3 linked regions of the Homo sapiens genome follow. The protein of the gene in region 3 purifies or fractionates together with the protein of the main gene of each other region. This does not show direct contact. Each region holds a gene or a part of one and is shown on either strand. Other genes may lie near its edges.

The links. Proteins that work in one complex are often made in the same cells at the same time.
Region 1: the proteins of THUMPD2 (region 3) and TPX2 fractionate together in Homo sapiens (co-fractionation; one large-scale study listed by BioGRID). This does not show direct contact.
Region 2: the proteins of THUMPD2 (region 3) and DUS2 fractionate together in Homo sapiens (co-fractionation; one large-scale study listed by BioGRID). This does not show direct contact.

What each region holds. Positions count from the first base shown.
Region 1 is NC_000020.11:31,776,781-31,781,968, reverse strand, and holds part of TPX2 (targeting protein for Xklp2), read right to left. Parts: intron 4,483-5,188; coding exon 4,331-4,482; intron 3,157-4,330; coding exon 2,985-3,156; intron 1-2,984. UniProt on the Homo sapiens protein: Spindle assembly factor required for normal assembly of mitotic spindles. Required for normal assembly of microtubules during apoptosis. Required for chromatin and/or kinetochore dependent microtubule nucleation.
Region 2 is NC_000016.10:68,057,275-68,062,462, reverse strand, and holds part of DUS2 (tRNA-dihydrouridine(20) synthase [NAD(P)+]-like), read right to left. Parts: intron 1,398-5,188; coding exon 1,350-1,397; intron 1-1,349. UniProt on the Homo sapiens protein: Catalyzes the NADPH-dependent synthesis of dihydrouridine, a modified base found in the D-loop of most tRNAs. Specifically modifies U20 in cytoplasmic tRNAs. Activity depends on the presence of guanosine at position 19 in the tRNA substrate.
Region 3 is NC_000002.12:39,768,050-39,773,237, forward strand, and holds part of THUMPD2 (U6 snRNA (guanine-N(2))-methyltransferase THUMPD2), read right to left. Parts: intron 3,592-5,188; coding exon 3,456-3,591; intron 2,071-3,455; coding exon 1,661-2,070; intron 1,143-1,660; coding exon of another isoform or gene 996-1,142; exon of another isoform or gene 453-995; coding exon 375-452; intron 1-374. UniProt on the Homo sapiens protein: Catalytic subunit of the THUMPD2-TRM112 methyltransferase complex, that specifically mediates the S-adenosyl-L-methionine-dependent N(2)-methylation of guanosine nucleotides, most probably at position 72 (m2G72), in the U6snRNA of the major spliceosome.

The sequences.
Region 1 (5,188 bases), on a different chromosome or scaffold from region 3:
ACGGGCCTAGACTGACTTTCTTTTTTTTGAGACAGGGTCTCACTCTGTTGCCCAGGCTAGAGTGCAGGGGCATAAAGGCTCACTACAAATCCAACCTCCCTGGACTCAGGTGATCTTCCCACCTCAGCCTCCCAAGCAGCTGGGATTACAGGCATGCACCACCATGCCCAGCTAATTTTTATATTCTTTGTAGAGACAGGGTTTCACTATGTTGCCCAGGCTGGTCTTGAACTACTGGGCTCAAGCAATCCACCCACCTCAGCCTCCCAAAGTGCTGGGATTATAGGCGTTAAGCCACTGTGCCTGGCCAGGCCTATACTTTCTATTGACAATGCCAATTATTTTGCTTGTTATTAACACAAAAAATTTTTGCTTATTCCAGCTTTAAGATATAAGGCCTTCCTGGCCGGTCACAGTGGCTCACGCCTGTAATCCCAGCACTTTGGGAGGCCGAGGCAGGGGGATCACGAGGTCAGGAGATCGAGACCATCCTGGCTAACACGGTGAAATCCCGTCTCTATTAAAAATACAAAAAATTAACCGGGCGTGGTGGCAGGCGCCTGTAGTCTCAGCTACTCGGGAGGCTGAGGCAGGAGAATGGCATGAACCTGGAAGGCGGAGCATGCAGTGAGCCAAGTGAGCCAAATGAGCGCCACTGCACTCTGGCCTAGGCGACAGAGCGAGACTCTGTCTCAAAAAAAAAAAAAAAAAAAAAGATATAAGGCCTTCCTAAAGACCAAGTAAAGCCTGAACAGAATGGCTCAAACCTGTAATTCTAGCAATTTAGAAGGCCAAAGCAGGAGAACTGCTTGAGGCCAGGAGCTCAAGACCAGCCTGGGCAACATAATGAGACCCTGTCTCCTAAGAAAATATAAAAATTAGGTAAGCATGGTGGCATGCACCTATATATAGTCCCAATTACTTGGAAGGCTAAGGCAGGAGGATTGCTTGAGCCCAGGAGTTGGACACTGAAGTGAGCCATGATCACGCCACTGCACTCCAGCCTGGGTGACGGAGCAAGACCCTGTCTCTAAAAAGCAAAACAAGAAGGAAAATAAATAAATAAATAAATAACAAAAGAAGACCAAGTGAAAACTCCCAATTTTATGAAATCAATATAAAAGCATCAAGACCACATCTTACAGAAAATCAAATGGAGAAAGTTAAAAACTATGTTAAAGCATCAATATTAAGACATCACCACCACTCATTGAAAATATTAATTTACCTGGCCAGTGAAACCTTGTCAATTTTCATAACTAATATAGAATGAATCTTTCAATTTAGGTCTTGTCACATAACAGTGGTAGATCAAAACCAAATCTATTTTAGAAATAAGCCATGTTTCAAAGATACATGTAACCATTATTTAGCTGTAACTGTACAAAGTTTTAAATAAAAATTGCATAATATAATTTCTCTTTCCTTTTGCCAGGACTAGTATTCTGAAAGCAGGACATATCAGACTCTGAGTCATATATTATTTGAAAAGTTATGCTTAATATTTAAATTTCCATTAGAATAAAGAAGAATATTTCATTATTTTCATACTATAAAATCTAACAAAATCATTTTGGCCACTAGAACATAATAATAATATTAAAAAATGCTGTACTTGGCCAGGCGCAGTGGCTCACACCTGTAATCACAGCACTTTGGGAGGTTGAGGCGGGCGGATCACTTGAGGCCAGGAGTTCAAGACCAGCCTGGCCAACAGAGCAAAACTTGGTCTCTACTTAAAATCCAAAAAGTAGCTGGGCATGGTGGCACACACCTGTAATCCCAGCTACTCGGGAAGCTGAGGCACGAGAATCTCTTGCACCCAAGAGGTGGACGTTGCAGTGAGTCGAGATCGCGCCACTGCACTCCAGCCTGGGTGATGACACCCAGAACGAGACTCTGTCTCAAAAAAAATGCCTATGCAAGGATATAAAAAATTTAGAGATCCTCAAAGGTAAAACAACCACATTCTGCTTTATCCAGAATACTATCCCTATACTCCCAACAACTATTTAATACCACCTCCACCCTTCAGATTTCATCTTCCTTCTTGCAGAAATTATTTCCATAAAGATAGAAACTATTACATTAGAATCCGCTCATCTGCTCACCACCAAATCTACAAACTCCCCCAGTATTTGCACCCATTCCTCCCACTCTTCCATCCTCCTTTTAAAGAACACTCACTCCACCTGTGCTAAGTATCCCTCCAATACCTGCCTGCTCAGGGACTTAATCCATTAGTTATCTCCTCTCTCTCGTACCTTCAGCTTCTTTATCTCTGACGAGACTTCTCAACATTCAGACATGCTCTCCCTATCTCCCACCTCCTTTGACTCTTGCACCTCCCTCCTCCTCAAAATCCCCTGCCATAATTTGTAGTGACCTGTTTATCTAATGACAGTTTAAGAATGCAAAGAACTAATTAGTGTATCTCTAATGACAGAGATAAATAGGTCACTACAAATTATGGTAAAGGCTTTTGAAACTTGATGTCGAGTTTTGAAACTTGAATTAGAAACCTGATGTTGAGTAGCACCAAGTCTATTTTATTTACCTCTATATACCTAACACAGTGTGCCTGGTTAGTAGTAGTAAAAATTTTGGTGGACCACTGAATAAAAAGCACATAGCCTTGAATGAATGAAATGCCTTCATTTTCTATAGGTAACTAAATGCAATGTGACACTTTGACACATGGCAAAAAAATGTCCGTTAAGGATGTGTAATGACATCTCAGGTTACCTTAACTCATTCCCCTTGGCCAATTATTGATGAGGAGGATCAAGACGGTTGATGGGTATAAGACAGACAGCTGGGTGGTTTGAAAAATTCTGAAGGATACATTTGTTGTCTGCATAGTCACACGCCATACTTTAATTGAAAAACTAGGATTTCAGCTAAAGACAAATCTGTGCCTAAGATGTAAGCAGAGGGAATGTAGGAGAGGTTCCATCCAACTGTGATACTGGTAGGAAACTTACTAATATCATCCTTCTTGCTCCTCAAATGATATCTGTTAGGGGTTCGTTTATGGAAGTCTTCAACTTGCTGTGCAAGGGGCACATATGTAGAAACTGTTTCATCAAATGTTCTTTTCTTTCCTTGGGACAGGTTGAAAGGCTTAACAATGGTACATCCCTTAGTCACTCGGGCCTGTAAAGAGAAAAGTTGTTCCCCAAATGAAATGTCACGGAAGAGCTCACATCTACCATAAGCCACATATTCGGCACAGAGGATCAATAAAAAAGGCCTGTGTAAAACCAAGATTATTATTCTGAAGTTTGTCAGTCCTTGAGCAAGGGTTATAACTAATCTGTTCTCATTAAAAAAAATTAAAAATGGAAGAAAGGATCTAGCACTTAACAAATCTTATGTTCTGGAATAGTACATAGGTAATTTCCCCCCAACCATGTCAATGTTTTGAAGGAATCCAGAGTAAGCTATCTTAGAATTGAAGACAAAAAGCACTGCAAAGAAATCTCACCCTCAACTCCACTTTAAAAAAAAAAATTGATTGGGCCTCTGGGTATGCATCAGGTCAGGCAGCTTCCTGAATCAGTGGAATCTCTCCATACATCCCCTAAAGAGACTGATGAAGAAGCCTATTCCTATTCCTTGGACCAGTAATTTTGATAAAACTGGTCTCTAATTGGAAGCAAAACCCTTCAAGGACCTGTATCTCAAAGAAAGAAGCATAACCTCAGGGTTTAAGAATGCAAATAACTAATTTCAAAAAATGATGATACTGACTACAAATGCAAGTGGAGATTATTAGTACTAGCATTTTTACTTAACGATTATTACTGATTTTGTTGGTGCTCTGGTAACAAAACTGCATGAGATTTGACTGGTCTGCCCCAACCCTATTTTTCCTATAAGATCTGTTATATTGGCCAGGCATGATGGCTCACACTTGTAATCCCAGCACTTTGGGAGGCTGAGGCAGGTGGATCGCCTGAGGTCAGGAGTTTGAGACCAGCCTGGCTAACATGGGGATACCCTGTCTCTACAAAATACAAAAATTAGCTGGGAGTGGTGGCAGGCGCCTGTAATCTCAGCTACTTGGGAGGCTGAGGCAGGAGAATTACTTGAACCCGGGAGGCGGAGGTTACAGTGAGCCGAAATCGTGCCATTGCACTCCAGCCTGGGCGACAAAAGTGAAACTCCATCTCAAAAAAAAAAAAAGATCTGTTATATTTTACACAACTTTATAGACACAAGGTTTTTTTTCTCAATTATACTATTATAAACAGTGACCACAAATGCTACACGTAAAATCCTAAATGAATATTAGTAACAGAAATGTTCATTTAGTCCATCAACTTACAGGAGATGAAGGATGCTTTCGTAGTTCAGATGTAAAGTTCACTTCCTTATATTCCTCCTGGTTCTTAGGATGTTGTTTGATTCGCTCATCTGTGCGGAAGTGGAAGTCAACTGATTTGGTGACCTGGCTCACTGATTTCTTCACAGGTTGCCCTGAGAGATGAACACAGTAAAACATACAGACAACATTAAGATAGGGAACACCAGTAAATCCCCTTTACTCCAGTCCTTTTGCTATTTCTGTCACCATGGATCTAACTTTGCTTACTATCTACCTGTAACCCAAAACTTGAAGTAGTCCTCAGGGACACTAATATATGTGTCATATTCACTGAGTACTATTAGGTTTGAGGCCTTTCAGTCAGATGCAAACTAAAAAAAAGTAGTAGCACAGGGTAGAAGAATCCCATCTCCTAGGTGTGGTCATAGCTATGGAGAAAAAGAATAACTGGAATACTTTTGATAAGAAAAGCTATGGATTGACTTTGAAAGCACAGTTAACTCAGCATCTCTAAGAGGAAAATCCTATAAACTCCAGGGGTGCTTTTTCAATCCAGTAAGGAGAACTTTATAGTTATGACTCCACCAATAACAACTCTATGCCCGAGCAAAGCAGAACTGTGACCCCTTCAGCTCTCTCAGTCATATTTTTCCTCCACAGGTGAATTGGATTTGACTGTTTTCTTTTCCTTTGCCTTTAGAAAAAAATAGGAAAACAACAAACTGGTCTGCCCAATTACTTTATCTTCTGTCTCAATCCAAGTTCCTTTTTTTCCCTAAGACCAAGAACAGACTTTTAAGAAAGTACCAGTGAGCCAGGCACGGTGGCTCATGCCTGTAATCCCAGCACTCTGGGAGG
Region 2 (5,188 bases), on a different chromosome or scaffold from region 3:
CAGGCATGAGCCACCACGCCCGGCCTACTATATGATCTTAAGCAAATTATTTTCTCTCTCTGTGCTTTAGTCTATTGTCCTTGATCAAATGGAGATAACTGCCAATCCTATCTACTTCAAGGGGTTTCAGGATCAAATGAAAGGCACATTATGGCTGGGCACAGTGGCTCACATCTGTAATCCCAGCACTTTGGGAGGCCAAGATGGGCAGATCACCTGAGGTCAGGAGTTCAAGACCAGCGTGGCCAACATGACAAAACCCCATCTCTACTAAAAATACAAAAATTAGCCAGGCGTCGTCGTGGGCGCCTGTAATCCCAGCTACTCAGGAGGTTGAGGCAGAAGAATTGCTTGAAACCTGGAGGCAGAGGTTGCAGTGAGCTGAGATTGTGCCACTGCACTCCAGCCTGGGTGACAGAGCAAGACTCTGTCTCAAAAAAAAGAAAGGCACATTATACAGGTGCACTATAGATAGAGTATCTCTGGCTGCACATGGGAAAAACGAGAAGGCATGTAGCCAGCAAGCACAGTGGTCTTCCTATGTCCCAGAGACAGTGGGGCTGGAGGAACATGCAGGGTTGGGCTGCTGGCACAGCAACCATGCAGCTCTCATTGGCAATGATGGCAGCTCTCATTGGTGATGCCTAAGTCCCAAGTCGCTCTAGCCTCTGGGAAGCAGGATGAGGCTTAAAGCCCAGACAGGGAAGTAGCGATAGAGAATGAAAAGGAAAACAAAGGAGCTAAAAGGAAAGAGCTGGCAGACTGGGAGAGGAACACAAACCTGTCCCCAGGGCCTCATTAAGCTAGCCTACAGAATCACCAAAGAAAGGGGAACAGAGAGAGACTAACTTCAGCTTGCCTCCTCTGACCCTGGCCCGGGCTTCTCTCCAAGGGCTGGGGTAGACTCTTTCAGGACATAGGGGACCCACTGCTCCTCTCATCAAGCCCCCTGGGAGAGGCCAATCCACCCACACACATACAAACACATATGGCCACTGAGCCCGTCCTCACCACAGGTGGGCTGGCCTCTGCTCTCAAGACCTTCCCAGAAGGGAGACAGGAAATACAGAGGAGGTTCTCTGTGAGTCCTCAGGACCCCTGGCTCTTCATTGACATGTCTCTTGCTCTGGGCTTTTTAGGAACATCAAGGCTGCTGTAGGCTGGCTCGGGGGTTCCCAAACTTAGCTGCATGTCAAAATCACTGGAAAATTTTTTGGAAATCGCTAGGCCTCAGGGAGAGAAACTGGGTGGACATCAGTAAATCTGGTATTGGTGGAAGGAGGCGTTCTAGACAATTCTAGTTTGGAGCTGTGTTTGAGGACCCCTGCTTTCACTCGTGGAGGACTTACCTTCTCAATCTTGTCAGGGTCTGACAGCAGGGCAGCTCCCATTCCTCCCTAAGGAGAAACACACAAAAGGTCTTCTTACATCTGGGAGACACTATGGCCCTCTCCATGGGATGGGGTCTGGCAACTGAGCGTCACCCCGGCACTCACTTCCAAGGGACCAAGGCCCACTGGCAACCGGCACTTCTTTTAAACAAGTAGGAGGGCAGCAGTATCTGTGCCCATAACATCTGGGACTGAAGTGTGATAATTTTTTTTCTTTTTTTTTTGAGACAGATTCTCGCTCTGTCACCCAGGCTGGAGTGCAGTGGCGCAATCTCGGCTCACTGCAACCTCCACCTCCCCAGTTCAAGTGATTCTCCTTCCTCTGCATCCTGAGTAGCCAGGATTGCAGGCATGCACAACCACACCTAGCTAATTTTTTAATATATTTTTAGTAGAGACAGGGTTTCACCATGTTGGCCAGGCTGGCCAGACCAGAGTGATGACTTTTAAAATGTATAGGCTGGGCGTGGTGGCTCACGCCTGTAATTCCAGCACTTTGGGAAGCTGAGTCAGGTGGATTACCTGAGGTCAGGAGTTCGAGACCAGCCTGGCTAACATGGTGAAATCCAGTCTCTACCAAAAATACAAAAATTAGCCGAGCATGGAGGTGTGTGCCTGTAGTCCCAGCTATTCAGGAGGCTGAGGCAGAAGAATTGCTTGAACCCAGGAGGTGGAGGTTGCAGTGAGCCGAGATTGCACCACTGTACCCTAGCCTGGTTGACAGGGCAAGACTCCATCTCAAACAAACAAACAAACAAAAAAGTCATCATTCTGATCCCCTTGGTAAATCCCACAAATCTATCTAGAGTGGGCTATATAAAACTTATTTTTCAAGACTGCCCACTCCCTAACCCAGGTCTCAGTGTCTTAATAAACTAAATCCCACCATCTCCCAAGCCCTTAAAAAACAATGAATCATCCTTCATTTGAAATAAGATCAAATGTGCCTTCTTCCTATCATACTCAATGCTTGCATAGGCATCAACACCACCAGCAAAGCTACTAAGGTGCACACAACTTACAAACCTTGTCTAGGCCCTTCTCTTCTGCCAGCAACAATGTCCCAGCCCAGACCCATGCCCAACTCTAACCAAAGCCCCAGGAAATGGAAACTACCAACCCACACAACCACTTGAATCTTGATAATAGTAATGGTGGTTGCTTTTTATTGTGAGTTACTGGTGATTTTCCTGCTCTTTTCTGTACTTGTCTATATTTTCCAACTTCTAGACAATGGTATTAATTACTTTAATAATGGAGGAGGGGGATCTTTAAAAATCTGAATCCATTAAGAGTGAGATGAAGGCAAAAAAAACAATTCCAATAAATATATGCTGCCAGTATAAAGATTACATACTAATGAATGCTCACAGAATGTGCTCAGAAGGTGTAAGTTCAGTTATTACACTTTAATTTCATGTTTAAGGATGATAAATTGGAATCAGAGAGAACATTAAACCACCACAGACTCGGCCAGGCTGAGCCTGGATTTTAAAGAAGAATGGGTAGACTGGAAAATCCACCAAGCCTGGACTACATTGGTCATAAAAGAAACCTTGAAGGCCTTGAGGAAGCCCCAGCACTCCCCCTGGCTCCATCTGTCCTTCCACTCACACGTATCCAGCCCTTCCTTATAGAATCACAGGATCTAAAATTCAGTTTCACTGCCCCTTCCACAATAATAGCTTTCTCAACAATGGAATTTCCTTCCTTCCTTCGTTTCTATTAAACTTACTTGCTTTTTTGAATAGGTAAAACATTCAAAATTTGAGAGATTCAAATGGGTAACGAGTAAGAAGTCTCCCTGCCTAAGGAATGGGAAATGTTTCAATCTATACTTTTTTTTTTCTTTTGTTTCTCATATAGGGTCTCACTCTGTGGCCCAGGGTGGACTGCAGTGGCGTGATCTTGGCTCACTGCGACCTCTGCCTCTGGGGTTCATGCAATTCTCCTGCCTCAGCCTCCCAAGTAGCTGGGACTACAGGTGTCTGCCACCATACCTGGCTAATTTTTATATTTTTTGGTAGACATGCGGTTTCATTCTTTTGGCCAGACTGGTCTTGAACTCCTGACCTCAGGTGATCTGCCCGCCTCAGCCTCCCAAAGTGCTGGGATTACAGGCATCGGCCACCAAGCCCAGCCTCAATCTATGCTTTTTATCTGGCTTCAATTTTTGAACCATGAGAACACAGCAGATATTCAGCTAGTATGTACATGTGTGGCATATTGATTGGTGTCTCTTCTGACTGATCAGTGCCAGTGCTGTGCCAGTTAATTATTTTCAGTAGCACCCCTGTAATGGGAATTTACTACCTATGCATAACCAGATAAAAACTTAAGTTTCCTTCCCCAGAGGAAATCAATGTTACTAGTTTCTTCTGTGTCTCTCCAAAAATCTTCCCTGAATAAACAAATAAATATATATAATCATTCCCTATCCTCCTTATATAAATGGTATATACCACCTTACCCTGCCTCCAGATCATTTTAACTCTGCTCCTCACATAATTTAGGAACACAAAGAAGTAATCAGAAAACAGCAAAACCACCGGGCACAGTGGCTCACACCTGTAATCCCTGCACTTTGGGAGGCCGAGGCAGGTGGATCACGAGGTCAGGCGTTCAAGACCAGCCTGGCTAACATGGCAAAACCCCGTCTCTACTAAAAATACAAAAAAAATTAGTTGGGTGTGGTGGCGGGCACCTGTAGTCCCAGCTACTCAGGAGGCTGAGGCAGGAGAATCGCTTGAACCCAGGAGACGGAGGTTGCAGTCAGCCGAGATTGCACTGCTACACTCCAGCCTGCACGACAAGAGTGAGACTCCATCTCAAAAAAAAAAAAAAGCCCAAAGATACCTAAAGTCCAAGTCCAGCTGATCTTTTACCAACCAAGGTTTTCGATCCTGCAGTCTGCTTCTTCTTCATCATCTCCCACTCGACAAACCTCTGGTCAAATCGGGCTACTCAGGCCTCCCTGTGTCTACCTCATATTCATCCCCAGGCCCCTGCTTATACCACACCCTCTGCTTACAGGGTCCTAAATCTCAGCCCAAGGACAATATTTCCCTATCAAATTCCAAGTTTAAAGGCTGCCTTTCCACTCCCTTCTCTGGGCTACCATAGTCTGATCTCTTCTGATACGACAATGGGAACATTTACACTGCATCCACTTTTTTTTTTTTTTTTTTTTTGAGACAGATTTTCGCTCTTGTCACCCAGGCTGCAGTGCAGTGGCATGATCTTGCTCACTGCAACCTCCGTCTCCCAGGTTCAAGCGATTCTCCTGCCTTAGCCTCCCAAGTAGCTGGGATTACAGGCACACACCACCACGCCCAGCTAATTGCTTGTAATTTTAGTAGAGACAAGGTTTCACCATGTTGGTTAGGCTGGTCTCAAACTCCTGACCTCAGGTGATCTGACCACCTCAGCCTCCCAAAGTGCTGGGATTACAGGCATGAGCCACCAGGCCTGGCCTTTTTTTTTTAAACTTTTGAAAATTTTTATAGAGACAGGGTTTCACTCTGTTGCCCAGACTCATCTCAATCTCCTGGGATCAAGTGATCCTCCTGCATCAGCCTCCCAAATTGCTAGGATTACATGTGTGGGCCACCACTCCCGGCCTCCTCTCTTTTTTTTAAATGTATGTCTCAGTTGTTTTCCCTTTTTTTTTTTTATAATCCTCCTCTGGGCTTTCTGGGATATGTGTCTCAGTCTTATTCATGAAAAGACACAGCCCTGTCCCCTCTATTTTTCTCTGTACCTTTGCATTGTTTTATTACTTGGGCATGAGTTCTCTC
Region 3 (5,188 bases):
TTTGTGTAGGACTTTGTTGTTATCCATTTTTTTAATATTAGCTAAAATTTTTAAAATCACAGATTGTGTGTATTATAGAGACTATAGAGAACATCGCTGTAACCTCATAATAAATGTTTTTTTCTTCAACTGTGACCAGACAACTCCATTCCAAAAAATCTTTTTTTGGAGTTTGCATAAGACATTTTCTCAGTGAAAACTGCTAGCAAAACTATCTGTACTATTCTACTGCTAAAGATAAAATGGACTGTTGGATCCCTGTAGATACACTTTTTATAACTGTAAAATAAAACGGAAAAGTATGATAAGAATACAGGACACTGTCTTTAAAGAATTAGGTTACAAGTATATAAAATAAAACAAATACTCATTACCTCTAATTGTGGATTCCTCAAGTCTGCTTTCCATCCAAAGTGTTTCATAATAGCAATTCCAATTACTTTTCCTACCTCCTGGAAAAGTACCAAGTTAAAGAAAAGAATACTAAAAATGAAAATTTTAAGTTTAAATGTCAGCAAAACTAACAGAGTAGCCTATAAGAAAATCAAGTCAGGCTATCTGATGGTAATTTAGAGTTCTGATATTAAAATTGTACATGAAAGCATTTCCTATTCAAGGCAGTAAGGCTGTATTTTACCTGCCCTAGCCCCCAGTACACCCCATGGCATTAATGTCTACTCATGCATAATCTCTATCCTTGTAATTTTAGGTATATGAAATAACTAGATTATGACCTGATAAATATGATCATTCTGGGTTTCAGGAAATAGATGCAAGCTGAAAGATTAACTATGTCAGCTACTATAAGCCTATGTGTTTAAAAATTATCAGATTAGTATCATTAGACTCACCCTTTAGGGTTTGACTGATTTTAAGGTTGATAAAGTATTCAGACCAATGGCCTTTAACATCACTGAACTTTGTAAGGGCCAACTGATGAGGTCTGGTGATGGCAACAGTTTGTGGTGTTCGCTCTTCTCTACATTGCTGAGACCTCATGTGCATTTGCAGTCTAGGTCCTGGTGACAATCCCATGTACAGGACCTGTGCAGAGTAGCCACTGAATAAGCACAAAGCTGAACTGAAGAGAAACCCCAAAAGCTGAGGACTATGGTATCAGGATTTCCAAATACAAAGGACATCTGTAGATTTAAGGAAATTTTTAGGCAGAAAGTATAAGAAAGTCATTACTTGGAATGGCATACCATTCCTCTTAAACATCTGAGGAAAAATTAAAAGGAAAATGTAGTTTTAAAGACATTTAATTCCATAAGAACTAATTGTCTGCGGCTAGTTATTTGTTCTGTGAGAGGTTTGCATCTCATTTTAAATCTAAAGAATAATTAATTCTTTAAAAAATGGGACCCCCAGGCCAGGCATGGTGGCTCCCGCCTGTAATCCCAGCACTTTGGGAGGCCGAGGTGGTTGGATCACTTGAGGTCAGGAGTTCCAGACCAGCCTGACCAATATGGTGAAACCCTGTCTCTACTAAAAATACAAAAATTAGCTGGGTGTGGTGACGCACACCTGTGATCCCAGCTACTCAGGAGGCTGAGGCAAAAGAATCACCTGAACCTGGGAGGTGGAGGTTGCAGTGAGCCAGATTGTGCAACTGCATTCCAGCCTGGGCGACAGACTCCACTTTAGGATGCAAGCATACCTGTGCAGTGAAGGCCTTTCCAATAGTTCCACTGCAGCGACAAGATACTCTGAAAGTCAAGTCATTCTGATTATGAGTATCAATTGCTTTCTCTATGTCATTCTGAAATTCTTCTTCTTGAAACTTTTCGCTTTTAGTGGTAAAATCTCTTTGCTCCAGAGTTTCTTCTTTTATTTGTTTTTCCAGCTGGCAGTCCCTATTCTCTTCTATCTTTTGCATTTGTTCTATTTTTAATTTCTTTGCAATGATTTCATTTTCTCCCACTTTTCTTTTTAGTTGGTTATCATCTCTCTGAGAAAGTTTTTCCTTTTTTGCATCAAGTTCAAGAAGATTTTTCCAAATTGAAATGGCATTCAACCAACTTCCTGGATCTTCATTTATAAGTCTTTGCATTTCATTAAATATTTTTCCTAAATAAGAAAAATCTTGTTGATCCTCTATTGAAGCTTTAAAGACCATCTATTACAATCATCACCCTCAAACTCAATTACCTTTATTTCCTTGAATTAAGTTTTATTAAATTGCTACACGAATAACTTCACTTTCATTTGGAGTTCATATTCCATTTACCATAAGAATATTGTGCAGAATAAAGTTCATTCTTACATTGCATATATAGCATCCGTATTGTGTTAAAATTCCTATAGAATTACCATATAATACCCTAGAAAGATTATTTGTGCTATGGTAATATATGTATCTCTTCAATATATACATAGACCTAGAGTGTTTATCAATCTTTGAAATAATGGTGATCTTCCCTATAAAAATTAAGTTTTTATAAGAAAAAAATAAACTGAAAAACTCAGCTCAGAAACAGAGGAGCTGAATCTTGGGCCTGTTACATTTTAGCCCACACCATATTAATAAGTATATTATAATGTGTTTCCATAAAGTAACTCACAACCCATTTATAGCTTAGCATACTGCCAGTATGCTCAGCAAAGTTTAATCTCTTCTTGATGAACCACAGTCATCAAGATGATCCAAAATTACTGTATTTCTTTAAGATGAATGTGTGTAGAGTACTAGGAGGAATTATATTGATCCCACAGTATAATACTTTGGGATTTGCTTTAAAACAATTTTCTCTGCTTGGTCTTGATTTCTTGCCATTTGCATCTTTCTTAAAATAGTTTATTATAGGCTATAAATACATGATCTCTTACGTAATTCAAATTGAAGTTTACGGCAGCATTTAATCCTGCAGTGTCTGACCATGTTTTGCTGCTTTTATCAAGATCCATATGTTGTTTTAGCAGCATATTTATAAAATTTAGAGAGTGGACAAGGAATCTCTTATGCCCCCTTTACCTCTAATGCTTGGTAAGTGGGCATAAGTTTATCGAAAACATTTAAGGTCCTAGAAATATAAATTTTTACTATGCAGTATTTTTCCAATTATATCACACAGTTAAAATTTACAAGGTGATGATTTTCACTGATTTACTATTAAAAGAATGCATTTTGGATTAGTTCATGTTTCTAAATCCAAATAAATGCAACTGACCATATATATCTCTAGAGAAGGTACCTGATCATAATTCTCAAAGAAGAAATGTGGCTTAGGACATTAAAATCTCATTAAAAAGGCAGCACGCAGGTTGCAAAGAGAAGAAATATTCTACTACAATCAGGTGATAATATTCAGGAAATACAGAAAAATACATAATTAATGATCCCACACATGTCAATGAATATTAAAGTGTAAAATGGCTACATATTATCAAGCAGAAAATGTTGGAGTACAATGTATCATGTGGGTAAAAGCAACATGCATATGAATATGCCATACCTTTACTTACAGAAGAAATAATAAGTGGAAACTGCTTTTTAATCAGCAAAAATAATCTTTCTGCAGATTTTAATTTCTTCAACATATTCAAATCAGAACAGGTGGTGAAAAAAACCTTTCCTGAAATATATTCAACCTAGAAATAGAAAAACAGCTTTTAATGTAGTCCAGTGTCAGTGAAAAAACCATATTTTTTCCCTCAAGATATAGCATCTAAATTAAAAATAAAAATAACCATTTCTGAAGTATCTACTATTTGTCAGGCTCTGTACTAGGAACACTGAATAAGTATTTTCCTCCTTATCCTTATAACCACCCTCTAAGGTAGATTCGATCACCACCAAAAGTAGACAAAAGAAAGGTATAATGTATTGGACAAATTAGGTGTCTAGCCCAAGATGGATATTTATTGAAGACCTACCTGTAGGCTACCAGGAAGCATAAAACATATATCCTGAATAATAACAGACACACACTGACATACACATTAAAACATAAGATTTATAAGACAATAACTTGAATTAAATCCAGAAGAAAACTAAAAAGTTTTAACATTATAATGCACTGACAAGCTGTAAGTACACTAAGTAGCAATGACTATGAAAGCCGACATTACAAAGAGTCTTGGGAAAGAATCCTGTAAGATTTGAGAAGAAGGATTCTAACAAAAGAACAAGGGGCAGATGCGGAAGTGGGGGTGAAAACCTGGCTGAAGTAAACTGTAAGCAACATTTGCTTTATTATGCTGATTGATAGTGTCAGGTGGATGGATAAAGTAGTTTAGGCCAGCTTGACAAATGGTCATGAAATTTTGAGTACCACGAATGGTAATGGTCAACCATTATAGACTTTTGATGAAAACTGTGACAGCACTGAATTAGCTGGCAGAAAAAATTACTCCAGAAGAGGCATAAAGGACTGAGTGTAGAATGTGATGCTAGAGGGAGAAGTAGGTTACTAAGGTAGAAATGATGAGATACTTGGCTGCAGAAACTAGATAATGAATAGAAGCAAGACATATGCATCAAACAGAAACAGGTTTTGGAGACAGGATGGATATGTGGCAAGAGAAGGAAAATGAAAAGAGCACTGACTCACAGGAAGCCTAACATGCTGTGACAAATGGTGCTCAATACCAGTGGAATCTTAACTCTTTTAGGGTCAACCCAACCCTCTTAAGTCCAGGATGGATGTGGGCTTTCTTGGAATTCTCTTTTTAGCAGTGGCCACCAATTGAATAACATGGTTCTAAATAATCTCCTAGAACACAGACACCAGGGAATGTGGGGTTTCCTGTGTGTTAAGGCAGCTACCATCCATGGGTACTTGAACTCCAAGGGTTTATGCTTGTTTTGGATCTGTCAAGATCTAATTAAGCTCTTGGAATGGTAATTTCTGGGGTTGCTACTCCAGGCTGATGAAAGAGAATCTCTCCTGAGGAAGTGCTAGATTGGCACAGTTAAAACTCAAACAGCTGACAGCAAAGCACTGACCAAAATAGATGGAGGAACAGACAATGACATTATGGGAGGAAGCAGGGAATGAAAAGAATGTTTAGGAATCAATATATAAGGGGATAGTGAAGTAACCAAAACCAGAACTTCCGGTTTCTAGAATTTACTTCTTTCTCATTACATAGGTGACATTTTCCCAAAACTAAAGTATATACTTCAAAATGCTTAGAAACTTGAAAACAAAGTTTCAAAAAGTAAATTATCAAAAATTCAGATTTT